Linked DNA regions of Homo sapiens. The protein of the gene in region 1 purifies or fractionates together with the protein of each later gene. This does not show direct contact. Each region holds a gene or a part of one and is shown in the gene's direction. Other genes may lie near its edges. The genes, in order: FLVCR1, IGSF1, HACD2, IGDCC4, ENPP1, CA12 and CPT1A.

Region 1 (4,313 bases):
TTAAAGTTTATTTTTAATGGGAAACTTTTGATTTCAGGGAAAAGGATAGGTAAGGTTTATTTAAGTAATATAGCTGCTAGCATAACTATAATATTGCCCTTTAGGCACTCATCTGAAATTGATTTGAAGAGGAAAAGAACTAATAAAGTTGAAATGCCATCTTTTAATCATTCAAATTTATAATTTCATTATAGCTGGAGTTTTAAATTTATATACTAGTTTTTACAATGGCTATAATAGTAATGGAAAATTCATATTTTGTGATCTCCAGATATAAAATTCTTAGTTTTCAAAGAAATGTATGCTGAAGATTCTAGAGTGTTTGGGTAGAGACTGCCTTGGTAGATGAACTGCAGGATCCAGGTACAGGAAGCTCAGCCCACATACTTAATTTCCCTTAATATAATGAGCAGAATGTTCTCTTGGTAACATATGAAGTATTCAAACATGTGTAATCCACTTGTTGGTTTTGGTTTTCAGTTAGTTATGGAGTGGCATATTTGTGATGTGCAGACTACTAAGAAGGACACATTATTCCTATCCTATTTTAGCAGTTTAGCAAAGTTTTAAAAGAAATTTGTATTCTTAAAAAAAAAACACCAAAATTCTTTTTTTTTTTATTATAAGTTTTAGGGTACATGTGCACAACGTGCAGGTTTGTTACATATGTATACATGTGCCATGTTGGTGTGCTGCACCCATTAACTCGTCATTTACATTAGGTATATCTCCTAATGCTATCCCTCCCCCCACCCCCCATCCCACAATAGGTCCCGGTGTGTGATGTTCCCCTTCCAGTGTCCATGTGTTCTCATTGTTCAGTTCCCACCTATGAGTGAGAGCATGCGGTAAAAACACCACAATTCTTAAGTCTGCTTTTCTGGTAGCCATGTTTGATTTGCTAGATGAAATAGGAAATACATTTTGCATAAATGGACCTTCCATTTGCAATAGGGATTTTTTTTTTTTTTTGAGACAGAGTCTCGCTCTGTCACCCAGGCTGGAGTGCAGTGGCATGATCTCAGCTCACTGAAACCTCTACCTCCCAAGTTCAAGTGATTCTCCTGCCTCAGCCTCCCGAGCAGCTGGGCTTACAGGCATGCACCACCATGCCAGCTAATTTTTGTATTTTCAGTAGAGACAGGGTTTCACCATGTTGGTCAGGTTGGTCTCAAACTCCTGACCTCAAATGATCCACCTGCCTCAACCTCCCAAAGTGCTGGGATTATAGGCATGAGCCACCAGGCCCGGCCAGCAATAGGGATTTTTAAAGTATAGAATTCTCTCTCTTTTTTTTTTTTTATCAAGACGGAGTCTCGCTCTGTCACCCAGGCTGGAGGGCAGTGGCGCTATCTGGACTCACTGCAATCTCTGCCTCCTGGGTTCAAGCAGTTCTCGTGCCTCAGCCTCCCTCCCTGGGATTACAGGCATTTGGCTAATTTTTGGGGTTTGGTTTTTTTTTTTTTTTTTTTTTGAGACAGAGTCTTGCTCTGTCAGCCAGGCTGGAGTGCAGTGGCGCAATTTCGACTCACTGCAACCTCTGCCTCCCACATTCAAGGGATTCTTGTGCCTCAGCCTCCCAAGTAGCTGAGATTACAGGCGCGTGCCACCATGCCTGGCTAATTTTTGTATTTTTAGTAGAGACGGGGTTTCACCATGTTGGCCAGGCTGGTCTCGAACTTCTGACCTCAGGTGATCTGCCCGCCTTGGCCTCCCAAAGTGCTGGAATTACAGGCATGAGCCACCGAGCCCGGCCTTTTTTGTGTGTTTTTAGTAGAGATGGGGTTTCACCATGTTGGCCAGTCTGGTCTCGAACTCCTGACCTCAAATGATCTGCCTGCCTCGGCCTCCCAAAGGGCTGGGATTACTGGTGTGAGCCACTGCACCCGGCCAAAATTCTCTTTCTTTTGATTACTTTTGTGTCTTCACATAAATTCTGATTTTCCTTTTTTTTTTTTTTTAAATCCTCTTCAATTGCTTGTCTCAGAAAGAAGTGAGAAAGTAAGAGATTGCATGTAAGATATCACGAAATCATACATGTGATGTGTGTATGTTTAAACTGCTACAAATAAAAGATCTTTACTTGTTGAAGGAGGGAGACCAAGAATGATAATAATAGGTATGACTATTGGCATATTACCCTTTGTTATTTGAGAAATTAAAAGAGATCTGATTATGTACTTAACTAATTATGTACTCATGGCCTACAGGTAGAGAGTGGAAATAGAAATGAGGGGAAAATAATGGGAAATATGGCATTAAACAAAGGCTCTTTGTCAACTTTTGCTTGGAGGACTCTAATTTTAATTTTATGATCCCAAGCATATTATAAAAGCAAGATAGTATACAGCTGTGATATGAAAGTCTTAAGTTGAAAATTGTGACATTTAAATAGAACACATACTTGTTTTCCTCATTCCCAAATATTTGCTATTGAGCAAACTTTGGATTACTTAAAAAAATCCATACCAAATAAAGTTCCTTAATTACTAAAAGGTGATTTTACTTCTCTCTGAATTCTATCCATACTTACTTTGGAAGTCCCACCACGTCCTCATAAAATAATTTAATTTTGTTGAGATTTTTCCGCAACGTGACATGTACTAAATTGATACTCAGCAGTCTGCTTAAAATATTTTCTCAAAGGTTCATGCCATGTAACTGTTCCTCTCCCTCATGGAGCTTATATTGAGTATAATCCATCTAGTGTTTCCAGGAATTAACCCAAGCATTCCACTGAATTTCACACTAATACCCTATTCCTATTAGGAGAACTCTATTATAGCCTCAAACATTTGGTTTGTTGGTATGTGCCAAACATGTTTGGAGGCTTACTACATGCTGTATCTCATTTAATCCTCATGACTCTGTGAGGAGGGTACCAATATTCCCATTTTATAGACAAGGAAACTGAGGCACAGAATTTAGTTAAATCTAATTTGTCCAAGGTTATAGTAAACACTGAAGGTCAGATTTAAGCCTAGACAATTTAACTCCCTATATAAAAGTTACAGATAAAAAATAACATTTTAATTTTTACTGAGCCTTATTTTTTGTTCGAATTCAGATTCTTGCATAAGTGGTAATGCTGTTGTATTTAAAAGCTGTTCTTGTGCAGCAGAGCAGTAAACTATGTCATTTAACTCATGTGTCAATTAAAATACTTTCCTGATTCACTAAAATGAGTGGATGACAGAAGCCAAAAGTAATCACAATAAAAATATTTAATATTAATATGCTTAAACACATAAGCATATAATGTGTGCATAATTTTACTTTTTTTTTTTTTTTTTGAGATGGAGTCTCGCTCTTTCACCCAGGCAGGAGTACAGTGGCGCGATCTTGGCTCACTGCAAGCTCTGCCTCCCGGGTTCACACCATTCTCCTGCCTCAGCCTCCTGAGTAGCTGGGACTACAGGCACCCACCACCGCGCCCGGCTAATTTTTTGTATTTTTAGTAGAGATGGGGTTTCACCGTGTTAGCCAGGATGGTCTCGATCTCCTGACCTCATGATTCGCCCACCTCAGCCTCTCAAAGTGCTGGGATTACAGGTGTGATAATTTTACTTTTAATTCTTTTTTAAGAGATGGGGTCTCGCCCTGTCACCCAGGCTGGAGTGCAGTGGCACAATCTCAGCTCACTGCACCCTTGATCTCCTGGCCAGCCTTAAGCAATCTTCCTACCTCAGCCCTCTGAGTAGCTGGGACTACAGGTGTGTGCTATCATGCCTGGCTATTTTTTATATTTTTTGTAGACAGGGTTTCACCATGTTGCCCAGGCTGTTCCCAGCTTGCCTTGGGCTCCCAAAGTGCTGGGATTACAGGCATGAGCCACCATGCCCAGCTGCTTTTGATTCTTAATTCAAGATATCTATAAACTTTATTTTATTTTATTTTATTTTGAGACAGAGTTTAGCTCTTGTTGCCCAGGCTGGAGTGCAGTGACGCGATCTCCGCTCACCGCAACCTCTGCCTCCCGGATTCAAGCCATTCTGCTCAGCCTCCCGAGTAGCTGGAATTACAGGCGTGCACCACCACACCCGGCTAATTTTGTATTTTTAGTAGAGGCAGGGTTTCTCCATGTTGGTCAGGCTGGATTCAAACTCCTGACCTCAGGTGATCCGCTTGTCTCGGCCTCCCAAAGTGCTGGGATTATAGGCGTGAACCACCATGCCTGGCCCGGCTGCATACTCTTAACAGAAATACATTTAACTTAGTCTGTAAGAATTTCAAACTCCTGAGGCAGTCTCTGATTTTTTTAAATAAATATTCCTCAAAAAAAGACAATATTTTTGTGTTGCACTTGATAATTA
Region 2 (3,964 bases), on another chromosome or scaffold:
AGTGGTAGAATTGTGTTTCCTTCATTAGTTTTTTTTTCTATATTTTCTAATTTTTAACAACAAACATATATTGTGTCTTACAATAACACTTTAAAAGGCTATTTGCAGGATGTGAGGGCTGGGTTTATCTCATGCTGTGGTCTCTTTAATTTCAGAATTCTACCCCAAACCCACTCTCCTGGCACAGCCAGGTCCTGTGGTGTTTCCTGGGAAGAGTGTGATCCTGCGCTGCCAAGGGACTTTCCAGGGCATGAGGTTCGCCCTCTTGCAGGAGGGAGCCCATGTTCCCTTACAGTTTCGGAGTGTCTCAGGGAACTCAGCTGACTTCCTTCTCCACACTGTTGGAGCAGAGGACTCTGGGAACTATAGCTGTATCTACTATGAGACAACCATGTCAAACAGGGGGTCATATCTCAGTATGCCCCTTATGATCTGGGTGACTGGTAAGGACCGACCGGACATGGGACTGGGATGGAGATCATTGGAGAAGGGGTTAGGGAGAGTAATTCCTCCTGGAAGGCTAGGCTAGGCCACGGAGGGGAACTACCGTGCCCAAGAGGAGAAAGATAGAGTGTTAATTTAAGCAGGAACTCATAAGTTTCTATAGTCACCACTTTACAACCTTGGTCTCTTTCTAGACACATTCCCTAAGCCATGGTTGTTTGCTGAGCCCAGTTCTGTGGTTCCCATGGGGCAGAATGTTACTCTCTGGTGCCGAGGGCCGGTCCATGGAGTAGGATACATTCTGCACAAAGAAGGAGAAGCCACTTCAATGCAGCTCTGGGGATCCACCAGTAATGACGGGGCATTCCCCATCACCAATATATCTGGTACTAGCATGGGGCGTTACAGCTGCTGCTACCACCCTGACTGGACCAGTTCTATCAAGATACAACCTAGCAACACCCTGGAACTCCTAGTCACAGGTAAGGGGAAGAGGCTGTCGAGTGGGCATGGAAGTGTAGAAAGGAGGGAATAGACTAGTTCATGGGAGATAGTTTTCAGAGAGCTCGAGGAGAGGCAACCAATTGCCTTTCCTCTTTATTGAGCAGAGACCCCAGGGGTGATGCACTGGAAAGTGACCTCTTCTCTTTGACCAGGAGTTCATTTCTTCCAGGCTTACTCCCCAAACCCAGCCTATTAGCCCAGCCTGGTCCCATGGTGGCCCCTGGCGAAAATATGACTCTTCAGTGTCAAGGGGAACTGCCAGACTCAACATTTGTCCTGTTGAAGGAGGGGGCTCAGGAGCCTTTAGAGCAACAGAGGCCAAGTGGGTACAGGGCTGACTTCTGGATGCCAGCAGTGAGAGGTGAAGACTCTGGGATCTATAGCTGTGTTTATTATTTGGACTCTACTCCCTTTGCAGCTTCAAATCACAGTGACTCCCTGGAGATCTGGGTGACTGGTAAGGTCCTGGAGACTTCAGTACAAGTCACGATTTTGTAGTTTTTAGCAGTAAGCAATAAGGGGGTAAAAGGCTAAGTTCAGGATCATTTCTTTTAACTCTGTGTCCTTGTTGGTTGCAGATAAGCCCCCTAAACCCTCTCTGTCAGCCTGGCCCAGCACCATGTTCAAGTTAGGGAAGGACATCACCCTTCAGTGCCGAGGACCCCTGCCAGGTGTTGAATTTGTCCTAGAACATGATGGAGAAGAAGCACCTCAGCAGTTTTCAGAGGATGGAGACTTTGTCATCAACAACGTAGAAGGAAAAGGCATTGGAAACTACAGCTGCAGCTACCGCCTCCAGGCCTACCCTGATATCTGGTCAGAGCCTAGTGATCCCCTGGAGCTGGTGGGGGCAGCAGGTAAGAGAATAATCTCTCCATGGTCCTGGTGTGACACACCTGGGATCCCAGGGACAGTCCCCATGGAGACATCCCAAATCAGGAGAATGGAGGAGCTTTGGAGCCAGGGACCTGAAGTGTGTCATCTTTCTCCTAAGGATGATGAGGAGGTGGGACCTTAAATATATTTGAAGATAGTGAGTGGGTTTCTTTTCAGGCCTCTTTTCCCCAAGGAAAGGAGGGCTGCTTCTGCTTCAGCATAAACTCTGCCACTGCCCACCCCCTCTGTAGTCTGAACAGATGGCTCCCACGTGAACCCTAAAGAAGGCCAGAGTGTGGGGCAATACCAGATCAAGGGGAACATACACACGCTAATCTCCATGGCCTCGGTTTCTCCTCTTTCATCACCACAGGGCCTGTTGCTCAGGAGTGCACTGTAGGGAACATTGTCCGAAGTAGCCTAATCGTGGTGGTTGTTGTAGCCTTGGGGGTAGTGCTAGCCATAGAGTGGAAGAAGTGGCCTCGACTGCGAACCAGGTAAATAAATGCCTCATTATGGCCCCCTTCTGTGAACCAGGTGGTGCTAGAAAAACAATCATACAAATGCTCCCCTAGTATCTGAGCCCCACCGTGCAATCTGTTTTCAGTTTCTGGGTCCTCCCTTACTCATGTCTTTTTCTTTACATAGAGGCTCAGAGACAGACGGAAGAGACCAGACCATTGCCCTTGAAGAGTGTAACCAAGAAGGAGAACCAGGCACCCCTGCCAATTCTCCTTCATCAACCTCTCAGAGAATCTCTGTGGAACTGCCCGTTCCAATATAATAATCTCCTCCTTTACAAGAGCTTTCCTCTCCTCTCTCTTGCTCTCAGAGACCTATAAATCCAACCAGTTACCCTGCAAGTCAGCCCCATCTGCTGTTCCTTGGTCTCTAATCACCTGAGCTGGGTAAAGGGGATTCTGGGAGTTGAGAGCTCTGCCAGGGTGAGATGTTTCCTGAAGAGAGGTTCCCCACCCCTGTAACTCCTCACTGTACTGATTTACTGGCGCATGAAATTCTATTAAAAATGCATTCTTCTGAATAAAAAGAGTATTCACTATTTAACTTCAAAAACTATGGCTGTGGTCTTCTATTGGTCTGTTTTCCACTAACAATTTAGAAATGATGTATTGGAGCTGATCTCGATGGCAGAATAAGAGAGTGCAGGGGTACGAGAAAAGAGAAAGTTGTTCAAGGATGGGCGTGGGGAGGGGGCTCCAAAATAGCTACTTCCCAATTTGGTTTGACACATAGTCACTGACCAGAGTATTCTTTTGCCCTTCCATGGGATAGATGAATGAATGAATGGCAACACTCTCTCCAAGTTGAGCCTGAGGAGGGAAAACACAGACATTACATGCATTTCATTGTGTTACGTTTGGGTCCATAGTACATCCACTTTCAAACAGTGGGATTGGCCCTCAGCAGCACTTTGAAACTGGAAAAGCGCGCTTTGTGACCCTTACCTAGCAATCACAGGGTGTAAATGAATTCACTCTTAAGTAAGAACAATTAATCAAATCTGATACTTTGTCCCTCTCTAAAGAGAGTTCCATTTTCCCAAAGGAATGTGCGTGTAATGGTGGGATCTCAAGAAGCCAGTAAGCAGATGAGGTGGATGGTTTGGAACAGGGGACCTGCCAGTGTCGCCTCCCAGGATTCCAAATGGGGAAATGGTGGGGCGGGGGGCTAGCTCCCATTCTCAGCCACTGATCTTTCCCCCTGGATTAGAAGGCCACTTGCCCCATGAGTGGGAATTCAGTACACATTAGGCCATTAGGCCGTTTGGAATGGGGTGGGTGGCTTACCTAGTTCCTCAAAGCTTGTTAAAGACCTCAGAAAAAGTGACCTACAGGTCTGAGAGGGGGTCATGACCCCTTCAAATCTGACCCTAAAGAAGTTAAACTTGCCTCCCAGCAGTGTTTAATTCTAAGCTAACACTGTTCAATAGAGCAATGTACAAGGGTACAGTACCTGGTGAGTTATTTAACCCTGGTTATAATAAAGTTTAGAAAGCAACTCCTCTATATGGTTGCATTAGGAAGCATATTTACACAGCAAGTTAATGAAAAAAAAAAAGCATCCCATTTACCTTAATCCTTACAGAATGAAACACTCTGAGTATTATAGACTAATTTGT
Region 3 (4,313 bases), on another chromosome or scaffold:
GCTTATTCCTTTCCTTTTGGCCTTGATCTCAATAGCAAAGTTGCCAAAAAAATGAGCTCCAGATGGGTGAGGTGCCACTATGCTTTCACTGAGCCCTCTTGGTAAGGTGCTGTCGGTGTTGCAACATTTCAGTGCATTACAGCTTGGCATTTGAGAGCTATCGTCCATAAATCCAGGTTACTCATGCTTGAGGTCACCTTTAGCAATATCTTTTATTGCCACAGCTGTGTGTTAACCTAAATGCTACTTTTTTTATTTTTATTTTTTCCTGATTGCTGTTTTCTCTTTTACTAGGTGGCTGGTTATAGCGGTTGGTCTGGTCCGAGCATACCTGGCTAAGGGTAGCTACCATAGCCTTTATTATTCAATTGAAAAGCCTTTGAAATTCTTTCAAACTGGAGCCTTATTGGAGGTAGGTCCTGAGATTTATTGTTGTTATTGATTTCCATTGGTATGAAGAAAAACATGCAACTAAATTATATTGAAGTAGCATACCCCCTTTGGATTCATGTTAAATTTTGAAATTTTGCCTCCTCACATACTAAAGTGTTGATACCTAGGCTTTTTGATGTTCTAGATTGGGTAGAATCTCATTTAACTTAGGTTACCTTGAATGTATTTTATATTCGACTTTTTTGGGAAATCAACTGAAGCAAGCTTATATTAGGATTTTTAAAAATTCTAGGGACATCCTGGGGAAGCACTGGCAAAATCAGATGCTTTCAGGGTTTATGTAATAGAAATAGTGAAGTTGGTGGGTGTAGGATATTGGAAGTGATAGATAGAAGACATAATAGAGAGCCTGTCTAGAGGCGTCCAAATTTTAAAAATTTAACAAAAATGTATTGATTTCCCTGCATTAAGGGCAATGTATATCCAGCCCTCTCTCTTGGGGTAAGTATAGATTAGGATTTTGGAATTGCAAGGGACAAAAACCCAATTCAAACTATTTTAAGCAAAAAAGGAATTTTCTGGCCTCTGTAGTTGATACAGATACAGGATTAATTTACAAAGAAACTAGCTCAGGAATGAGAACCAAGGAGCTGACACTGCCAGATTCTCTTGCTTTCTCTCATTTCTGCTTGTCTGTTTCTCTTTGAATGTTGGTCTTGGGCTCTCCACATGGTGGGAAACAGGGAGGGTGTTTATTTTTCGCAGCATCTGTGTCACACAGTTCCCAGAGAGGATTCTGGTTGGCCCTACTTAGACTATGCCAGTGATGTGAGGTGCTTGATTAGCCAATCTTAGGACACATGCCCATTCTTCTGTCCAAGGGACTATAGACTTTGCTTATGGAAAAGAGGGATGGGGATAGCTTTGGGCACACAAAATCAATAGCCGCCATAGTTCGTATATTTCATTATGGTGAAAAACCTTCAGATTGCAGGGAAGATCTGGTTCATTTTGCTTAGCCTCCAGGCAAGACCATCATAACATTTATACTTTACTGGCAACTTTTAAAACCTGAACTATGGAATGATACTTAAGAAAAAATCATTTATCTCGCTGGGCACGGTGGCTCACGCCTGTAATCCCAGCACTCTGGGAGGCCGAGGCGGGTGGATCACGAGGTCAGGAGATTGAGACCGTCCTGGCTAACACAGTGAAACCCCGTCTCTACTAAAAATACAAAAATTAGCCGGGTGTGGTGGCACGGGCGTGTGGTCCCAGCTACTGGGAGGCAAGGTTGCAGTGAGCTGAGATCACGCCACTGTACTCCAGCCTGGGCAACAGAACGAGACTCTGTCTCAAAAAAAAAAAAAAAAAAAATTCTTTATCTCATGAAATGAAGTGTGATACCTCTACCTTTCATTCTCAATTTTTTTTTTTTTCTTGAGACAGGGTCTTGTTCTGTCGCCCAGGCTGGAGTGCAGTGGTGCCATCATGGCCGTGGCTCACTGCAGCCTTGAACTCCTGGGACCAAGCAGTCCTCCCACCTCAGCTTGCAGAGTAGCTGGGCCCACAGGCTTGCACCACCATACATGGATAATTTTTAAAACTTCATAGAGACAGGGTCTCCCTGTGTTGCCCAGGCTGGTCTCAAACTCCTTGGCTCAAGCAATCTTCCCATCTCAGCCTCCCAAAGCACTGAGATTACAGGCGTGAACCACTGCACCCAGCCCACTCTCACTTTATTTATTTATTTTTTTGAGAGAGGGTCACTCTGTCACCCAGGCTGAAGTGCAGTGGTGTGATCACTGCTCACTGCAGCCTTGACTTCCCAGGCCCCAGCCATCCTCCCACCTCATCCTCCCAAGTAGCTGGGACCACAGGCGTGCACTACCGTGCCTGGCTCATTTTTATATTTTTGGTAGAGGTGAGGTTTGGCTGTGTTTCCCAGGCTGGATTCACTCTCACGTTCTAGATCAGAAAGTTATCCATTTTGCTTTTGTTTTTTTCTCTTAGAAGGCAGAGGAATTTCTTTTTTTCTTTCTTTCTTTTTTCTTTTTTTTTTTTGACACAGGGCCTTACTCTGTTGCCCAGGCAGGAGTGCAGTGGTGGGATCTCGGCTCACTGCAACACAGAGGAATTTCAATAGTGTCCAAACTTAGGCATTTTAAGTAGGTGGTATGATGAAATGAGCTTCCAGCTGGAAGCCTGAGTACCTTTTTATTTTAAGTATAATAGTTTTCCCAACTGACTCTATAGATTTGGGCAAGTCTTTTCTCTCGTATCCACCTCCTTTTCATTTGTAAATAATTAGGTTAAAGTAGATTTCTAAAGTCCCTTACTACCCTAAATTTGAGTGTGAGGAAATTTTAACAAATCCTAATGTGAACCATTTTTTAAACTTAGAGGCTTGAACTTTTTTTGGAAGCGGACACTAGTAAATAAGTAGTACTTTCTCTTTCAGAACCTTGGCCAGTACAGTTCCCACAAGCTACAGAGAAGCAAATTTGGAGTCAAGACCATCAGACTTCCAGTACTTGATATAGTAGGGGGTTGTCCCCATTTGGAATACTTCAATAATTTAAAGGGGTTTCTATCTCTTTAAGACATCATAATATTAGAGCTGAGCACAGTGGCTCATGCTTATAGTCCCAGCAATCCCAGAGCTTTGGGAGGCCAAGGCAGGAGGATCACTTGAGGGCAAGAGTTCGAGACCAGCTTGAGCAACATAGCAAGACCTCATCTCTACAAAAAAAAAATTTTTTTTTTTTTAGCTGGGCTGGGTGGTGGGTACCTGTAGTCCCAGCTACTTGGGAGGCTGAAATGGGAGGCTTGAGCTTGAACCCAGGAGTTTGAGGCTGCAGCGAACTATGATTGCATCACTGCAATCCAGCCTGGATGACAGAGTGAGACCTTGTCTCAAAAAAAAAAAAACTTGGTAATGTTAGAAGTATAATTTTTAAAATTTAAGTATATCTTATGGAAGGTAGGGACATTAAACAGTGTCATACTTTAAAATCCACTCAGGAACCAAGTCTTAGACTTTGAAGGATTAGCCTGTTTATCCTTATAGAATTTTTAATAGGGATTTAGGAAAATATCTTGGATTTTTGGTTTTATCTCTGTTATCCCCACTAAGAACCAATTAAGTGACAAATCCTGGATTTGATTTTGGGAAAATGTCTGTGCATAAGGAAGTGAAGACTCCCAGGAACATGCAGGCAATTAACGTTGCAAAGGTCAGTGATGGAAGTAATCCCTTGGACTGGGCGATAGAGCAGGCTTGCTAAAACCACAATTTCTGTGGTTGAGGAGTTTTTCATTGCCTACCCCATCTACACTGTGTAATAATTAGATGTGTGTGGTATTGTTTAATTACACATAAGTTATCCTGATGGGAATTATTAGTGTTGACATATATCCTGTTTACAGGAGGAGAAAATGAATCCAGGGAAGGCAGCTACTCATTTATATCTCTTTATGCTAAATGTTATTCTTTATTAGGTTCTGTGGGAGTTTACTTAAAAAGGAAATCGAAATTACTTGTTCTCCAATTTCACATCTTCTTAAGAAAATAATAACACTTTGCTTTTTAAAAGACATAAAAACATTTACCAAGCAAGTACAAAGGAGCATGTAGTAGCAAGGTACAAAAGGAAGCCTGGCTGAGTACCATGGCTCACACCTGTAATCCCAGCACTTTAGGAGGCTGACATGGGGGGATTGCTTGAGGCCAGAAATTCAAGACCATCCTGGGAAACATAGCGAGACCCCATCTCTACAAAAAATTAAAAAATTGGCCAGGCATGGTAGCACATGCCTGTAGTCCCAGCTAATCAGGAGACTGAGGTGGGAGGATCACTTGTGCCCAGGAGTTCAAGGCTACAGTGAGCCATGATCGTGCCACTGCACTCCAGCCTGGG
Region 4 (4,313 bases), on another chromosome or scaffold:
GGCCAAGGCGGGCGGATCACGTGAAGTCAGGAGTTCAACACCAGCCTGGCCAACATGGTGAAACCCCATCTCTACTAAAAATACAAAAGTTGGCCAGGTGTGGTGGTGCATGCCTGTAATCCCAGCTACTCGGGAGTCTGAGACTCGAGAATCGTTTGAACCTGGGAGGTGAAGGTTGCAGTGAGCTGAGATCACGCCACTGCACTCCAGCCTGGGCGACAAAGTGAGACTCTGTCTCAAAAAAACAAACACAACAACAACAAAAAAACATGAGGCAGAATGAAGGGCTGGTATTGGGGTTAGGATAATGCCTGTGCCTGCCCATCTCCTCCCAACACTGTTCTTGAGTCAGGGACTGGGACCCCTTTGTGAACAGGTGGCGAGAAGCCGAGCTCTGTTCTTATCACACGCACAAAGGTGGGGCTCTCGGCTCTCCCTTCTTCCCAAGTCAGAATTTGGAGGGTAGGGAACCTAGAGGTCAGTAATGGGAGGCCTCTAAGAACTTGAGAGCTTTCTCCTCACCTGGGAACTCCTCACCTCCCCCATCCCTTTCTCAGCCCAGAGGCTCAGAGGCCAATCTCAGTCATTTGGGGTGGGCCTCTTTCCCCATCTTGGAAGTTAGGAATCAGGTCAAACAGTTGGAGTTTCTTTTAATAATGAATCTTATCCAGAAGATACCTAAACCTTCATTGATCCTCTATGTGCTTTCATGACTCAATTAAACACACATTTACATGTTAATTAGCATTTCTTTTCTCCTAAACATATCTCTTTCAAGTGAAGCAATTTCACAATTAGCGCATCATTGAATGTCAGCACTGAGAGGAACTTAGAAATAATTTCAGGCCAGGCTCATACCTGTAATCCCAGCACTTTGTGTGGCTGAGGCAGGAGGATCGCTTGAGCTGAGTTTGAGACCAGACTGGGCAACATATTGAGACCTCATTTCTACGAAAAATTAAAAAAAAAAAAAAAAAAAGCATGGCGGTCATGGTGGTGTTCCCTGTTGTCCTTGCTGCTCAGGAGGCCGAAGTGGGAGGATTGCTTGAGCCCAGGAGTTCAAGACTGTGGTAAGCTATGATGGCTCGCACCACTGTTCTCCACCCTGGGCAACAGAGTGAGACTCTGTCTCAAAAGAAGAAAGAGAAAGAAAAGAAGAAACAATTTTAGCATGAACCTGTTTTTACAGATGAGAAAACTGAGTGACTTCCCAAAGTTACATGATTAGGGACTGAAATGGGGCCACCCTTTCTAGGGATACCCAAGTTCACTCTCTTTGCACTCCTCTATACCTTCTGAGACGTTATCAGCTTCATGCTCTCCCTCTCAAGTGGGTCTATCTGGGCTCTGGAATCCACCCTCCTCCACTTAACCCCCCCCACCTCTTTCTATTCTCTCCCATGGTACAGCAACCAGACTTGATACGGAATTCCAGATGCAGAGCAGATGTCATTACCAGGCAGGCTTGGGGGCAGGGGGAGGAGTAAGCATGGCTCTGAGGGAGAGGACCCCAGCCTGGTCAGAGGTGGGTGACAGGAGCTAGGGGGCCAGGGAAGGAAAACCAGAGAGTATGTTTTGGAGCCTGACATGCAGAGAAATCAAACCCTGTTACCTGTGCCAACTGGGCTGCCAGCTACTACTGCCTCACTGCTGAGGCTGAGTGAGGTATCCTTTGGATTTGGGGGCCCATGGGGTCCTTGGGATCAGGGAAGCAAGGACCAATAAGCTGTCCTTCAGGTGCAGACCCAAGACTCCTGGATGGTTCTATAAGGGACTTATGACCTTGTTAGATAGTTTGCAGGACAAAGCTCTGGCCAGTGAGCAGAAAGTACTGGGAGAGACAGGTGGGCACAAGAGAAATAAATTTTTTAACCATATGAGCCATACAGCAAGAGAACAGGCAAGGTAGTGATCTCCCCAGCCTGGTCATGTTTAAGTACAGGGTTTCTTTCAGTGTGGACTTCAGCTGTTCTATCTCTGCTTTTCAAGCATGTCATGTCTACTGGGTGCCACGCAGTGTGCTAGGCAGTTTCCACATGTCTTCCTGACATCCTTTCTTGCCCTGAAGGGAGTTACTGTTGTTTTTACAGATAAGGAAACTGATGCTTGGAAAAGCATAGGGGGCTCTATGCCTTATCTTTTTGAGGATGTCTTCATGGGTTCACTCATCCATTCAAGAAATGTTTATTGAGCACCTACTGTGTGTTAGGCACTGTTCCAGGTACCGAGGATTTAGAAAGCTAAGACATAACCCCAAGACTTTGGTGCCTAGTTGAGGAGAAAGGCAAGTCAAAAACCTAGAGTGAAGGCTGGGCATGGTGGCTCACTCCTGTAATCCCAGCACTTTGGGAGGCCAAGGTGGGCGGATCACTTGAGGTCAGGAGTTCGAGACCACCCTGACCAACATGGTGAAATCCCGTCCTACCAAAAAATACAAAAACTAGCCAGGCATGGTGGCGCACACCTGTAGTCCCAGCTACTTAAGAGGCTGAAGCAGGAGAATCACTTGAACCTGGGTGGCAGAGGTTGCAGTGAGCCGAGATCATGCCACTGCACTCCAACCTGGGTGACAGAGTGAGACTCCGTCTCCCCCCGCAAAAAAAATCTGGAGTGATAACTGCGATGATGGGGGTGCCAGCGTTCTACGGGGCAGAAAAAGGAGAGGTGTCTAAATCAACCAGGGACATCACAGCTGTTCTAGGGAGTGAGAGCAGCACCAGCAATGCGTGGAACAAGATGTGTTTTCAGAGAATTGGCCATGGTTTGCTGTGTGTGGAGGGGTAGAGGGTCTCAGGGGAGCGGGAGATAGGCAGGTCAAGCTGAGCCTGGCTTTGCTGTTGGATAGGCTGAGGCTGAGACTCTCCCCTCAGGATTGCAGATGAAGGGAGAGCTGAGGCCTTCCTTGTGTCCCAGGCAACTGTCCCAACTCTCCTTCCAGCTGTTGGGGGGAGGGGCTCAGCATGTGGTAAGGGAGGTGGCCAAGGTTGGGGGCAGGAAGGAAGGTTTCTGGAAGGAACCGACTTGTGTTCTCTGGGAAAGGAGAATGGTGATGGTGTCGTGGAGAATTTCTCCTGGGCTGCAAACAAGTAGTAAATCTGTTGGGCCCTGAAATTCAGAAGTGAGGAGGCACTGATGTGATGTTTGTGGCAAGTTCCTGGCTTAATAAAGGAGCCATCTTGGCCTCGTTGTTCCCCTCCCCCAGCTACACGCCCCTTCCCTAAGAATTCACTGAAAAATGGAACTCACGCCAGGCCTCCACTAATCCCACGAAACAGCATTGAGCTGGCCCTGGAGCTCAGCAGCGAATCTCCTTTCTGTCTGGGTTCTAATTGGCCTCATAAAATCCAGTTTATCCTGTAAGTGGGTAAAATAATCTGTCAGAAAAAGGAGATTGAGAGGTGGCCCTAGGGTTCCCAAATGCAGCAGCTCTGTGTCTCTGACAGGGTCTCACTGAGGAGATTGAGGAGAAGGGATTATGGGAGGGGTGGCCCCCTCAAGACAGAAAGCCAGCGGGCAGCAAGTGTCCACTGGGCACCTGCAATGTGTCCACCCCGGCACTGAGAGGGAGGGCTAAAAATGTTGGGGGTCAGCCATGACAGTGGGCTGGGGGTGGCAAGTAAGCGCTGGCCATGAAGCTCCTGGACAAATAAGGTCCCCTCCCCAGAGCATCGCTTTTATGAAAAGATTTGGTGGTATGGGAGCCACACTTATATTAAAACAAATATTGCTGTGTTATGGAGCAGAATGCAAAATGTGCTAGAGGTTTGGCCGGGCGCGGTGGCTCATGCCTGTAATCCCAGCACTTTGGAAGGCCGAGGCGGGCGGATCACGAAGTCAGGAGATTGAGACCATCCTGGCTAACACGGTGAAACCCCGTCTCTACTAAAAATACAAAAAATTAGCTGGGTATGGTGGCGGGCGCCTGCAGTCCCAGCTACTCGGGAGGCTGAGGCAGGAGAATGTCTCGAACCCGGGAGGCGGAGCTTGCAGTGAGCCGAGATTGCGCCACTACACTCCAGCCTGGGTGACAGAGCGAGTCTCAAAAAAAAAAAAAAAAAAAAAAAAAGTCAAAACATTTTAGGCAGTCAGCGAGCCTCGTAAATATGTGTTCCTCTGCTGTTGAGAGAATTTGGGTGAAAACGTTTGAGAAGTTTGGAGACTTCTCATTTTAAAATTGGGGAAACTGAGGCTGAAAGGACAAAAGTAGCTCACACAAGGTCATGCAATGAATGACTGGACTTAGAACCCAGGACTCTGAGGCCAGGCTTGTCCCACCACACCCCCTTGTCTGTCTAGGCAAGAGTAAGGGACCT
Region 5 (4,313 bases), on another chromosome or scaffold:
TGTGATATATCTTTTCTCTTTCTAGTTTTTGCATTTTCCACTCTATTTTTAATTCCTTGGAGCTGTGACTTGACTTGGGTGCAGGTGTGGTGAAGTCTAGTTAGTTGACTTGGGTACGGGTGTGGAGAAGTCTAGTTCAGTTCTTGAGCATCCTGAATTAGGGAATCTGTGCTGTTAACTCTAGCAGTGAGGTGATGAGCACATAGTAAACCAATCACAATGTACCTTTTTAAAAATACAATTCAGATTGTTTAAATGTAGGGAGAAAAAAGATTTCTTGGTATGAAATGAATATATTACACTGTCCTTTTTTACTTCCATGTTAATATGTCATTATTATAAAAAGATAAAAATACTAGACAAGTTATGAACAAAATTGATAACATCCATGAGGGCACCTGTAATCCCAGCTACTTGGGAGGCTGAGGCAGGAGAATTGTTTGAACCTGGGAGGCGGAGGTTGCAGTGAGCCAAGATCACACCATCGCATTCCAGCCTGGGCAACAGGGCAAGACCCTTTCTCAAAAAAAAAAAAAAAAAAAAAAAAAAAAATATATATATATATATATATATATATATATATAGCAATTTGGAGAGTAGTTTATTTCATGCTTTACATTTTGTTTTAGACTTGAGTTAGAATAGAAGAAAGACTGTTGGGGTATATAGATGAGAATTATAAAGCAGCAATCATATTCTTATTTTTTAATTACTGGTGTGATGCTTATACTAACAATTTTGTCTTTTGCAACTGTCATTCCTCTCCTTCTGTCCTTTTCATCAAAAATGTAACTTCTGTCCAGGCATGGTGTACCACACCTGTAATCCCAGTACTTTGGGAGGCCGAGGTGAGAGGATTGCTTGAGACCAGGAGTTCAAGACCAGACTGGGCAACATAGTGAGACCCTGTCTGTACAAAAAACTAAAAAAATTAGCTGGGCATGGTGACATATGCCTGGAGTCCCATTTACTTGGGAGCCTGAGGTGGGAGGATTGCTTGAGCCCAGTAGGCCAAGGCTGCACTGAGTCATGATTGCACCACTGCACACCAGCCTGGGTGAAAGAGCAACACTCTTGCCTTGAAAGAGAAAAAAAAATCCACTAATACAAGACTATCATAAATGATCTTTGTTCTATGTTGGAATAATCAATCTATAGCGGTTCTATGTTACAAAATTTAAAACATGTCTCTCAGTCCTTAAAAATAGTTTTATAACCTTTTTTAGATTTTGCCGATTGAGGATTTTCAAACACAGTTCAATCTGACTGTGGCAGAAGGTAAGGCATGCTACACACTCAAGCTCGGAATGTGAAGCAGGCATTTTCTCATCAGTGTGAAATGCAGAGAACTGGCTTGGGGGTATTATTTGAGAATAACCAATAAAATAAAGGGAGTTCTGGAGGACCACCTGATGAAACATAGAGGTTTCTTTGCTTGACAGTTTAGACTATTAGGCATAAGGAAAGGAGATATTTTGCAGTGGATATTGTATGTAATGTATTTAGTGGAAGCTGAATCACACCTTGTGAACATGATGGAGGTGTTCAAAAATTTTTGATGATTTCTGTAAGTTGATAATAGAGACTGAGATTCCCATTTGAAATACCTAAGTTTCTATCTCACCTGGTTCTTAATCATACAAGGTTATATATTGATTTATTGATCTAAAGTTATTTCTGCATCACTTTTGACCAAAAATCAAGGATACACAGACAACTGATGAAATTTTTCACTTATGACTTGAATGTTTGGAGTCACTATAATACACTCTCTCAGCCTTAAGTTACTTGGCACACATTTTTTTTCTACTAGAATAAAGAGGTAAATTCTGCATTAGTTCTGATGTAAGTTTGTCTCTATAAAATCCCTAGGTAAATGCTGGAGTTAGGAAAATCTTTGATATCTCCAAGGTGGCAAAGTATTGTGGTGAATGATGGCACTTTCAGAATTGAGTAGATCCAAGTTTGAATATGAGCTTAGGTACTATATGTTCATGGAAATAGTATTCCCTGTCAGCTGCTGTTTCCTTATCTGTAAAATGGGCATATAACCTTAATTCATAGGGAAATGTAAAAATTAGTTATATGATGTGTACCAAGCCCTTGACATTTGGAAAAAGGGCAATAAATAATATCTATATTGTTATTGTTTTATTTAGTTTAGTCTCATAATTTCAATTCTGAACTTCTGCTTTCCAAGTACACATATCATTAAAAAAATTTGCTTTCTGGAGTGTGTCCTAAAGAATAAGTAATTAAAATAGTGCTTAAGAATTTTTGGTAATATAACTTTGAATTAACTGGAATATTTAGCAATTTCATATAGTGTCCTCATGGTATCTTGATATTACATTGATTTCAGAATCTTTATAGGCAAAAATAACAGTGAACCTCACTTGTCTTCTTAATTGTTTATGCTTCTACCCTTTGTAATCAGTTTTTTTAATAGTTAAAAGTAAATCTTCAATATAATTAAGTAGAGGAAAGGATTAGATGAGTGTATCACACTATATATTATCATATAATGCACACTAACTACATTTATTTTCATCCTGTGACCCAAGAGAAGATTATTAAGCATGAAACTTTACCCTATGGAAGACCTAGAGTTCTCCAGAAGGAAAACACCATCTGTCTTCTTTCCCAGCACCAGTTTATGAGTGGATACAGCCAAGACATCTTAATGCCCCTTTGGACATCCTATACCGTGGACAGAAATGCAAGTATTTGTCACCTCTTTATGTGTGGCCATTTCAAATTAATGATTAAGCAGAACATTAAATGCATAGTTTCTCACTGTTCACCTTGGCTTTATACTCAGTTCCCGCATTAGAGGAACACTGAAGAGGGAGTCAGAAAAATTCAGTTCCAGTTCAAGCTCTGCCACTGAGCAGCTGCATGACTTTGAGAACTCAGACCAAATTTCTTCTGTGAAATGAGGGTCGTGCAGTAAAGATTCTCTTTTGGGCTGTGCGCAGTGGCTCATGCCTGTAATCTCAGCACTTTGGGAGGCCGAGGCGGGCAGATCACGAGGTCAGGAGATCGAGACCATCCTGGCTAACACGGTGAAACTCCATCTCTACTAAAAATATAAAAAAATTAGCCGGGCGTGGTGGCGGGCGCCTGTAGTCCCAGCTACTCAGGAGGCTGAGGCAGGAGAATGGTGTGAACCCGGGAGGTGGTGGAGCTTGCAGTGAGCCAAGATGGCGCCACTGTACTCTAGCCTGGGTGACAGAGTGAGACTCCATCTCAAAAAAAAAAAAGAAAGAAAGAAAGAAAAGAATTCTCTTTTCCTCCCCGACCCCAGTTTTAATATTTTATGATTCCAATTTATAATTGCATGAAATCAGCCTTAGGATCAGTCACAGTTACCCATTTCTAAATACATGGCTGTGTGAGGACAAGTATTTCCCTCAGCTGTCCAAATCTAAGGGGGCCCTCACTGTTTGGCAAAGCCATTAAAGCTCAGTAACATCATTGCACGTACCATCTATAGGAAGACACGAGCCCAAACCAGGGAGAGGCCAGAATCCTGCCCACCACCAACACCAGAGGAGTTAGGCCTTGAAAGGAGTGAGGGCAAATATCCCAGAATAAGAGCAGCCTTCCCCCTCACCCATGGCCCCCTGGGTGCTCTGGTAGAAGGAGGAATGGTGAAGGAGATGGTGCTGGAAAGAGAGAAGGGGGAAGATGAGATTTTGATCTTACGTGGAATTGAAATTTTAAACTGGGCTGAAACTGAAAGTGACTGGCAAGGTACAGGATGCCCTAAGGGAACGACAAAGGGATTTGAGAGAGCATAGTGGAGGGCAGCAGTTTGATTTAAAAAATAAAATGATTTTTACTAATCAGTGAGACAACCAAATAAAAAGATAGGGATATGTCTGTTTATATATAATTTCTATGTTACAAATATATAATACACACATATATTTATATAAAATTTCTTGAACTTTGATTTTTAAAATTTTTCAATACTGTCTTCAAACACCAAACACTTAAAAAAATTTTTGACTTTGTAATTGATCAGTCTACACCATTTTTCATAGGCACCCCATCCTATTTATTAATATTTATACCTTAATTATGGGTTCCTTGATTCCATTTTCAGTTTTCTTATGTAATTAAAATGCATAACTTTACAGTCATTGCGATGCTTGAGGTTTTTACATTGCTGTTCGGTGACTGTCCTCCTTTGCTCCAGCAACTTTTGGCAGTGTAGTTGACTATGGAAGATAGACTCAGATCTCTAAAAATCAACATTTTACTATATAAAAGCTTAAAATTGACCAGCGCGGTGGCTCACGCCTGTA
Region 6 (4,313 bases), on another chromosome or scaffold:
TAGGGAGAAAGGGAGTGTACGGATGGGTGGTGGGGTGGTGCCACCCAAGCCAGGCTATGACAAGATTGATCTGGTTACTGCAGGAGAGCCAGCCTGGCAGTGTAACAAGGAAGGCTGGGGCTGGTTGCCTGTGGGAAGCCTTTGCAGTGTGACATGGCGAGGGCCTAACCCATGGAAGCATGGGAGTCCATGACCCACTAAGGGCAAAGGATAGACCAAGCTGGCTCTGAGATGTTGAGCCTTGGAGGAGCGGGGCCCAGGTGTTCTCTGATGAGGCATTCCACCATCAAGCTGTAATCTAGGCCATAACACATCCTCTAATTGCAATATTGCAAAAAATATATGGACTGTATGTGAACCCTGAAATTTACAAACTGTTAAAAATTTATGACCTATTTGGAAAAATTTGAATTCTAATTGGATTCGGTAATCTTAAGGTATTAATTCTTAACTCTCTAGGTGTGGTCATGGTACTGTGGTTTTAAGAGCCCTTATGTTTTAGAGAAACATATGAAATATATACAGATGAAATATATCTGGATTTGTTTCCAGTTATCCAGGTAGATAAGGGGAGAATGGGCTTAGCATAGATGAGGCAGGACTGTTTCTGAATTGTAAACTGTCCAAGCTGGGTGACATGGGGTTCATTCCACTCCTCTCTCTACATTGTATACATTTGAAATTTTCTGTAAAAACATTCTGGTCCTTGGATAATGCAGGTCCTACACCCTGGGCCTCAAAATTCCCAATCAGAAATCACGAGAGGCATTTTGAGCTGTGCCATGTTAATCTCTTGTTACCTTTCGAAACAGGAATTCTGACCACTTCTGTTTTGCCTAGAGCAGGAAAAACACATAGACAGGAAAGAAATAATGCCTTGGCTTTATTTAGAAAAACAAACTGTGAAAGACACGTGATCCTCCTGTATCACGATCATGGGAGGAGTCCAACCAACTGGAGAGGCGAAGTCAAAACTCAGAAGAGCAAAGGCAAAGTTTTAGCTGGAAATAAATGCTTCTTTTAGGAGAGTCACTCCCAGTGGAGGATTTCTGGCAGTGGAGCACTTGGCATGAGTGTGAAAGCTGACACTGAGTTGGAAAATGGTAGCCCAGGGTGTAGCGGCCAGCATAAGGCCAGCACTGTGCAGTCACATGTCACAGCTCAGGGAACAGAAAGGCCTGCTGTTGTCACCTCTGATATTGGTTGTCCCGGTGCCCACCCTCATGGCACCTCTATCTCTCACATGCCACAAAGACAGGAGGCTGCTCTGACAGTGTCCCCAGCTATGCAAGGCGGGGACACCCACTAGCCATTACATGCTGGGGGAGGGCCCTATGAACTTCCTTGGCAGGCCGTCTCCCAGGCTACAGGGCAGAAATCAGATTTCTTTTTCAATTAGTGCCCCCAAACAGAAACCATTTGCACACAGGTAAGCTAGAAAGCTAGGAGGGTACATTTTGAACCTGAGCAAGTGATCTCATTTTTCCTCCTCTTTTTTGAGGAGAAGAAATACATGAGGGAATTAAGGTGGGTGCACGTTCCCTGGGAAAGGAACAAGCATGAAACAGGTGTTGAGAGTTCAGCTTAGTAAACATGTGAGGGCCCACTCTGTGCCAGGCACTGTGGGAAGTGCAGCGATGGATGAGCCGTGGTCCTTGTCTTCAAGGACAGCGTGGGGAAGCCAGGAAATTCCAGGTGCACAAAATCTCCTGGATAAATACTGAAGGACACATAAGTCCTGTGACCCAAGCAAAGTAACTGTTACTTAGCCAAAGTCAAACTTCCGGCAAATCTCTTAAATCTCTATTTTTCACCCATAAAATGGTGCAATTCTGCCTTGCTTACCCCGTAAGGTTATAGAGTTATAAGGATCAAAGCTACTACAATATAATAACAATGAGGAGGAGGAGGAGGAGGCGAAGACAAGGCTTTCTTGACCTTGCTGACCTACAGACCTGTGACTGGTGCCCAAGGACGAACTCCGCTGTGGATGGCAGCCAGGACCAGGGCAGGTTCCTGATGCAGATGGCTGTCTGATCCCAGCCAGTCCTGGAGCACCGGTGCCCTGTGCCCTCATTCCCGAAGCTGGTTCCCCTGGGCACCTTGTCACATGCCCAGTAGCTGCCTTGACATGAGCAACCTTTCTGACTCATTCAAATTTGCCTGACAGATGGAGAAGGTGCTTAGTCCTAGTATTCTTAATAAATATCAGAGCTTAAGAGCCAGAAGGAACCTTCCAGAACATAGCTTCCACACACATCCCATCCCCACCACTACGCCCACCACCCCCACCATTTGCACGAAGGGCAATGGAGGCTCCAGCAGGGAACATAACCCACTGAAGTGTTGGGACAGCTGATGCTGGAATCTCATTCTCTGGACTCCCCTGGTCCAACATAGCTGCTTCTCTTTCCAAGACAGGTTTTGCCAACACCAACTCTACTGCCTTTAATATCCTTAGTCTTTCCTGCCCCCCAAATACCTTATTTGGTCCTAACTTCCAATAAAGCGTATTTAGAGCAAGAGAAAAAGGAAACATTCCCCAAGTCACATTTTCCCAAGCCCTCTGTTCTTTTTCACTCTTTGGGAAAATGTTTCCTAAATGCCCATGGGGGCACGTGACCCTACTTATAATATGGGTTCACAGAGACGAAGATGAGGGGTCCCTATCTTCACGAGGCTCTCGTTTAGCTATCAGTAAAATGCCCTCTTGATGAAACCTTTTTGAACCTCCACTGTGGGAAAAGAAAACCCTTCTAATCCAGTTCCCTTTAGTCATGTGTGCAAAGAGAAAGCTTCTCAATGATGCATCTCTTTACTTCCTGAGTTTTTTGCATTCATGCCTGGCTGGCAGCTTCCGCCCTGCTGGCTGTGGGCCCAGGCAGTATTGTGAGCACAGAAAAGGCTGGCAGCCTCACTTAGGGAGTCTTACCCTGTGCTGTGTCTCTTCCTGACCCTGGGGTTCTACATGAGGCCTCACGGTTGCTTCATTCTGCTCCCCGCTGCCCCTAAAGCATTCGGTTTGGCCCCCAGCTGAATAATTGTCTTACTCCAGTTTGGCCCTGGAGTGCCTGCTTTGATATCCTCCAGCCTCCCTCTTCCCTAGTCACCATCTTGGTGTAGTTGAGTTATTTTGAGGCCTTGAAAATAAGAATAGTAGAGCTCAGCGGAGACTCTGCCATGCCCAAGTGAGAAGACTGGTGTCCAGTGAAAGGTTGGACTGGAGATTCTGCAATTCCGTCATGCTGTAACATTTCTGAAAATGCATAGCCTAAGGTTGACAGCCTGAAAAATCAGTAGGGTTCCGATGTGTGTGTCCGGACCTAGAAGTAAGAACTAACTAAGCCTGGGACCAACGCCTCATAGCATTTGAAATGAACCTGGGTACCAAGTATCACTTCGGATTCTTCCCACTCTCAGATACGGTCCCCTAGTTAGAGAGCACGATGTAGGGGGTTGGGATTCTGTGGGGCCAATATAACATTTACACCCTTGTGAAACAGTGCAGGGGTCTACAGAAGAATTCCCAGAAGAGGTGGTGTTCCTTTCCCCTTTTCTCTATTTACCCACCTTCCTTGTGTTGAAATACTGATGAACGGACCCCCAGATGGCAAAGCTTGATCCCCAGCTCTGATAGAGCCCACAGGACACCCTGGGTCTACCCTAACGAGCCATGACATGCCAATTCTTTGCTTTTCTGGAGAAACCTTGGCCTGAAAGTCTGTTTAATTACCGTGGAGATAATCTTTTAAACATAGATTTACATTCTTTAAAGACTTTTTCCCTGTGGGAGTAGGAAAGTTCATCTGCACATAGCATGTTTATTTTCATTTCCAGGGGAGGAACTGCTATCTGGTAGTTAGCAAGAAGCTTGAGCCCTGGAGGAATTTCTTTTTTTAAAGTCTGTTCCTCTTCACTGATAGTGTGTCAATTATATTGTAATAATTAGTTTATAGTGTGGTCATATTTTTTTCCAGCTTAAACTCTGCACTTCACTCTGTGATTCCAGGCCTATAATTATTTAACATTTGTCAATCATCCCTATCAGATTGGGTTCTATAGTTACTCTAAATGTGGGTATCAAGAGTCAATGTCCTCAGGGGTTTCTCTTCAGGAAGGTCATACTTGCAAAGCCAGCAGCCACAAAGACCTATTTAGGTTGGTGCAAAAGCAGTTGTGGTTTTTGCCTGAAAGGAATGGCAAAAACCGCAATTATTTTTGCACCAAGATAATACTTGGCACTGTGGTCAGTAAGACACTAATTTTTCCCACCTGGGGTGGCCCCGCAGATTTGCTAAATTCTTCCCCGCTAG
Region 7 (4,313 bases), on another chromosome or scaffold:
TCACTCAGCATAATGTTTTCAAGGTTCAGTACGTTGTAACACATACCTGGAATTCATTCCTTTCTAGGGCTGGATAATATCTCATTGTATGGATTGACCACACTTTGTTTATCTCTTCATCAGTTGATGGGCATTTGTGTTGTTTCCACTCTTTGGCTATTATGAATAATGCTGCTCTGAACATTCTGTACAAGTTTTTGTGTGAGCATCTATTCATTTCATTTCAGTGAGTATGTACCTAGGAGTGGAACTGCTGGGTCATACAGGTATATTTCACTTTTTAAGGAAGGGCAAGAATTCTTGTCTGTTTTGTTCACAAAACACAGTTCTTGTCTGCGCTGTCACCAGGGCTTGGATGCCGCTGATGCTACAGTGGTTCCAACCCATAGTAGGTGCCCAATAAACACCGTTGAATAAATTGGCTTAGGTTTACTTGCCAGTGAAAGGAGAGCGTCACAAACTTGAGCAAGCCCTTAGCCCTCGTCTGTCCTCTCTCTGTCACATCTGACATGGAGATCAGATCCACCTCATTAGGTGCTGAGCATACTGGAAGCCTTAACAGCTGTGATTCAAACTTTGTAACATCTCTGCAAAGAACAACCCTCTCTTCATGTTGGAGGTTAATGTGTTTTATGTACCACTGTTAGTTTTAATAATTTTGTTCTATTTTTGACAGTACGTCATGTCCATTGACAGCCTCCAGCTGGGCTATGCGGAGGATGGGCACTGCAAAGGCGACATCAATCCGAACATTCCGTACCCCACCAGGCTGCAGTGGGACATCCCGGGGGAAGTAAGTCCGGATTATCCAACCATTGTTACTTACCTGGGATGGGAAACACATTTGAAGTCTTACAGATGAATTTTCCAACCGTAGTTCCTGCCCTATCATGAGCTCAGTTGAAGACCACTGAGGCTGAAAGTTGTTTGCTCAGGGAGTTCCGTGGGTCTGCGGGGCTGTCACAGCTCCTGTTGCCTCGGAAGCCTCGGTAAATATTTCTTCTTCTGTTTGAAGCTCCTGGCTAAGACTGTCAGCGCTATTTCCAGCTTAAACTTAACTAGACATCTACAGAATGCTCATAATCAAAAACTAAAAGCCAAAATCACATAGGTTAGAGCTGAAAGCCTCTAAATTGCTCATTTATACTTCTCAAAGTTTAATTCATTTTGGCACCTCTTAAACATGCTCAGAGGCAGCCCATTCACAGGAGCCCTTTTGGGAAGGAATTTTAGGGTTGCAAATACCAAATCCTAGTTCACTTAATCCAAGGAGAAATTCCCTGGAGTCCAAGATACCATTTTCTTTTTCTTTTTTTTTTTTTTTTTTGAGATGTAGTCTCGCACTGTCACCCAGGCTGGAGTGCAATGGCGCGATCTCAGCTCACTGCAACCTCTGCCTCCCAGGTTCAAACGATTCTCCTGCTTCAGCCTCCCAAGTAGCTAGGATTACAGGTGCCTGCCACCATGGTGAAACCCCGTCTCTACTAAAAATACAAAAATTAGCCGGGCATAGTGGTAAGTGCCTGTAGTCCCAGCTACTCCGGAGGCTGAGGCAGGAGAATGGCTTGAACCAGGGAGGCAGAAGGTGCAGTGAGCAGCGATGGTGCCACTGCACTCCAGCCTGGGCAACAGAGGGACACCCTATCTCAAATAAATAAAAATTAATAATAAAAAGTAAAAAAATGTGTTTCTTGATTGCCACTGTGTGATGACGTCATCATAAGATGACGTGTGACTATTTGAAACACCCTTTGGGGTCTCACTGGAAGCCAGGGTGCCCCCGTCCCCTACCCATGTTCCTGTTAGCGTCAGAACATATCTGTACGGGTCTGCAGCAACCTCAATTCTTGCCTTCTCAGAACGAATTTGACTGTGGGGCAGAAGGCAGGAGAGACCAAGTTTAAAAGCGGGAAAGTTTATTTTAAAAACTTTAGGAACGAAAGGAAGGAAAGTACATTTGGAAGAGGGCCAAGCGGCCAACTTGGGAGATTAAGTGCGAGGTTTGACCTCTTGACTTGAGGTTTTATACATTGGCATGCGTCCAGGGTCTTGTGTTACTTCTCCCAATTCCTCCCTTGTTGTGGGCTGTCCGCATGCACAGTGGCTCCAGCGCTTGGGAAGGGAGCATGCGCAGTATGTTTACTGGAGTTGTGCGCATGCTCACTTGAGGTGTTCTGCCCTTGCCTGTCTAGCACTGCTGGAGGAAGCTCATAGTCCAGTTAGACGCCGCCATTTTGCCTCTCAGTGCGCATGCTTCAGCCCACTCGCCCAACGCTTGAGATCTTATCGGGAAGCTGCTGGTCACCAGCTCCATTTCTATCTACTGAGAGACTGCCTTTCCCTGGCACCGGCTGTGACCTATTATTATTTTAGAGAGACAGTTCACAACCACCTGACCATCACTGATGGTCGCGTGATATTCCCAGTGTGTGTCGGAGGAAGCCCTCTCCTGGCCTGCTCATGTCAGACCCGCTACCTGCTATAACATTGCAGCTGCTCCTCCGGGGTCAGGGAGCCATGCCCCTAACTTACTAGGGCTTCTGGGTCAGGAAAACGTTTGTGTACTTCCCAGTACCGAGTTTATAGCTGCACTAAAAACCAGCCTCCAATTTCCTTCTGGGTGTGCGTCAGTACTTTTCTCCCCTCGTTCCGTAAAACCTTTTTCTTCTTTCTCTCAAGTGTCAAGAGGTTATAGAGACCTCCCTGAACACCGCAAATCTTCTGGCAAACGACGTGGATTTCCATTCCTTCCCATTCGTAGCCTTTGGTAAAGGAATCATCAAGAAATGTCGCACGAGCCCAGACGCCTTTGTGCAGCTGGCCCTCCAGCTGGCGCACTACAAGGTAAGAACTGACCGCCTAGGGTTTTGTCGTGAGCACTTTGGGGGTTCCTACACCTGCCCAAGACTGTTCACCCAGTGGGGAGGGAAGGCCCGAAACCCGGCATAGGAGAAGCACAGCTCCCCCCGACCCCGGTCTCCGGGGGCCGGGTGGCGTTGGGTGTTTCACCACGCACGCGGGCAAAGTTCGCAAATCCCCCTCCAGCAGGCGTAGATTCCCAGCTGACACGGGAGAGGGAGAGTCTGGGGGATGAGGACAAAGTGAGATCTCATCACTCTACAGAGGGAGAGTTAAGCCCCATAATAAGCCCCGAATCCTAGCATTTGCTAAAGTGGAAATAGTGTGGGCAGGTAGGGGAATAGTCAGTTACGTATTCGTCTGGCGCTCGGTAAATCTGCACTTCACACAGGTCAGGTGAACATGGTCCACGTTTCATCTGTCGCTCTCTGCTTGGGAACAAAATAAAAAGCTTCTTGCATGACTTAGCTTTCAGCTTAATCCTTTCCTTTTGGCAGAGTAAATCTTCCTTTCACCATACTAAATTAAATTTTGGTATTTTCATACAGTGGAATATTATATAGCTATTAAGTGATGTCTTTGGGCAAATTACTTAACGTCTCTGGCCTTTGACATCTCCTTCCATAAAAGGAGAAACTCCAGCCACTTGGAGGTGCCATGGGCTGGATCCCCTGTATACACATGGCATTTCCATCTCCCTTTTCTGAGCACTGGCCATATTTTGGCTTGCACCTGGCAACCCCTGTTGGAGGAGCAGCCTGCACCCCTAGCAGGGACATAAATGGGTCTTCTTGTCCATTGGAGGGAGCATTCCATCCCAGACAGGGGGCCCTTGGTTTCTGGGGGCAGCACAAGTCATCGTGGCATTGGCTTGAGATATTCCCAACTTTTTTTTTGAGACAGAATCTCACTCTTGTTACCCAGGCTGGAGTGTAATGGCATGATCTCGGCTCACTGCAACCTCCACCTCCCGGGTTCAAGCAGTTCTCCTGCCTCAGCCTCCCGAGTAGCTGGGATTACAGGTGTGCGCCCCCATGCCCAGCTAATTTTTTGTATTTTTAGTAGAGATGGGGTTTCACCATGTTGAGCAGGCTGGTCTCGAGCTCCTGGCTTCAGGTGATCCACCCGCCTTGGCCTCCCAAAGTGCTGGGATTATAGGCGTGAGCCACCGTGCCCAGCCTTGTATTAAAACTTGAGTGCTGTACACATATGCAGCGTGTGGCACTGCCCCCCCAACCTTGGTAACGATTGTGCCATTGTTGAATTTTGCTTGGTGCATCATGTACCTCATGCTTCACTGTCTCTGCACCTGGGAGGCACTCTTGTTATCCCATTTTTAAAAATTTACAAGTCCCCATTATGCCTCAGAAAATCTTGTTTTCCCATTTTACAGGTGAGGAAACAGGTGCAGAGAGGCCAGGTGCTTGCCAGGGTGGCACTAGGCAGGGATAAAG

Evidence for each region.
Region 2: the proteins of FLVCR1 (region 1) and IGSF1 purify together in Homo sapiens (affinity purification with mass spectrometry; one large-scale study listed by BioGRID and IntAct). This does not show direct contact.
Region 3: the proteins of FLVCR1 (region 1) and HACD2 purify together in Homo sapiens (affinity purification with mass spectrometry; one large-scale study listed by BioGRID and IntAct). This does not show direct contact.
Region 4: the proteins of FLVCR1 (region 1) and IGDCC4 purify together in Homo sapiens (affinity purification with mass spectrometry; one large-scale study listed by BioGRID and IntAct). This does not show direct contact.
Region 5: the proteins of FLVCR1 (region 1) and ENPP1 purify together in Homo sapiens (affinity purification with mass spectrometry; one large-scale study listed by BioGRID and IntAct). This does not show direct contact.
Region 6: the proteins of FLVCR1 (region 1) and CA12 purify together in Homo sapiens (affinity purification with mass spectrometry; one large-scale study listed by BioGRID and IntAct). This does not show direct contact.
Region 7: the proteins of FLVCR1 (region 1) and CPT1A purify together in Homo sapiens (affinity purification with mass spectrometry; one large-scale study listed by BioGRID and IntAct). This does not show direct contact.

The regions. Positions count from the first base shown.
Region 1 is NC_000001.11:212,864,529-212,868,841, forward strand, and holds part of FLVCR1 (choline/ethanolamine transporter FLVCR1), read left to right. Parts: intron 1-4,313.
Region 2 is NC_000023.11:131,272,440-131,276,403, reverse strand, and holds the end of IGSF1 (immunoglobulin superfamily member 1 isoform 1 precursor), read left to right. Parts: intron 1-155; coding exon 156-443; intron 444-638; coding exon 639-926; intron 927-1,117; coding exon 1,118-1,405; intron 1,406-1,526; coding exon 1,527-1,805; intron 1,806-2,197; coding exon 2,198-2,321; intron 2,322-2,472; coding exon 2,473-2,608; 3' UTR 2,609-2,898; downstream 2,899-3,964. UniProt on the Homo sapiens protein: Seems to be a coreceptor in inhibin signaling, but seems not to be a high-affinity inhibin receptor. Antagonizes activin A signaling in the presence or absence of inhibin B.
Region 3 is NC_000003.12:123,578,311-123,582,623, reverse strand, and holds part of HACD2 (very-long-chain (3R)-3-hydroxyacyl-CoA dehydratase 2), read left to right. Parts: intron 1-294; coding exon 295-412; intron 413-2,854; coding exon of another isoform or gene 2,855-2,923; intron 2,924-4,313. UniProt on the Homo sapiens protein: Catalyzes the third of the very long-chain fatty acids (VLCFA) elongation four-step cycle (condensation, reduction, dehydration, and reduction).
Region 4 is NC_000015.10:65,415,890-65,420,202, reverse strand, and holds part of IGDCC4 (immunoglobulin superfamily DCC subclass member 4 precursor), read left to right. Parts: intron 1-633; exon of another isoform or gene 634-3,354; intron 3,355-4,313.
Region 5 is NC_000006.12:131,877,316-131,881,628, forward strand, and holds part of ENPP1 (ectonucleotide pyrophosphatase/phosphodiesterase family member 1), read left to right. Parts: intron 1-1,226; coding exon 1,227-1,278; intron 1,279-2,564; coding exon 2,565-2,719; intron 2,720-4,313. UniProt on the Homo sapiens protein: Nucleotide pyrophosphatase that generates diphosphate (PPi) and functions in bone mineralization and soft tissue calcification by regulating pyrophosphate levels.
Region 6 is NC_000015.10:63,347,127-63,351,439, reverse strand, and holds part of CA12 (carbonic anhydrase 12 isoform 1 precursor), read left to right. Parts: intron 1-4,313. UniProt on the Homo sapiens protein: Reversible hydration of carbon dioxide.
Region 7 is NC_000011.10:68,771,796-68,776,108, reverse strand, and holds part of CPT1A (carnitine O-palmitoyltransferase 1, liver isoform), read left to right. Parts: intron 1-676; coding exon 677-793; intron 794-2,679; coding exon 2,680-2,844; intron 2,845-4,313. UniProt on the Homo sapiens protein: Catalyzes the transfer of the acyl group of long-chain fatty acid-CoA conjugates onto carnitine, an essential step for the mitochondrial uptake of long-chain fatty acids and their subsequent beta-oxidation in the mitochondrion.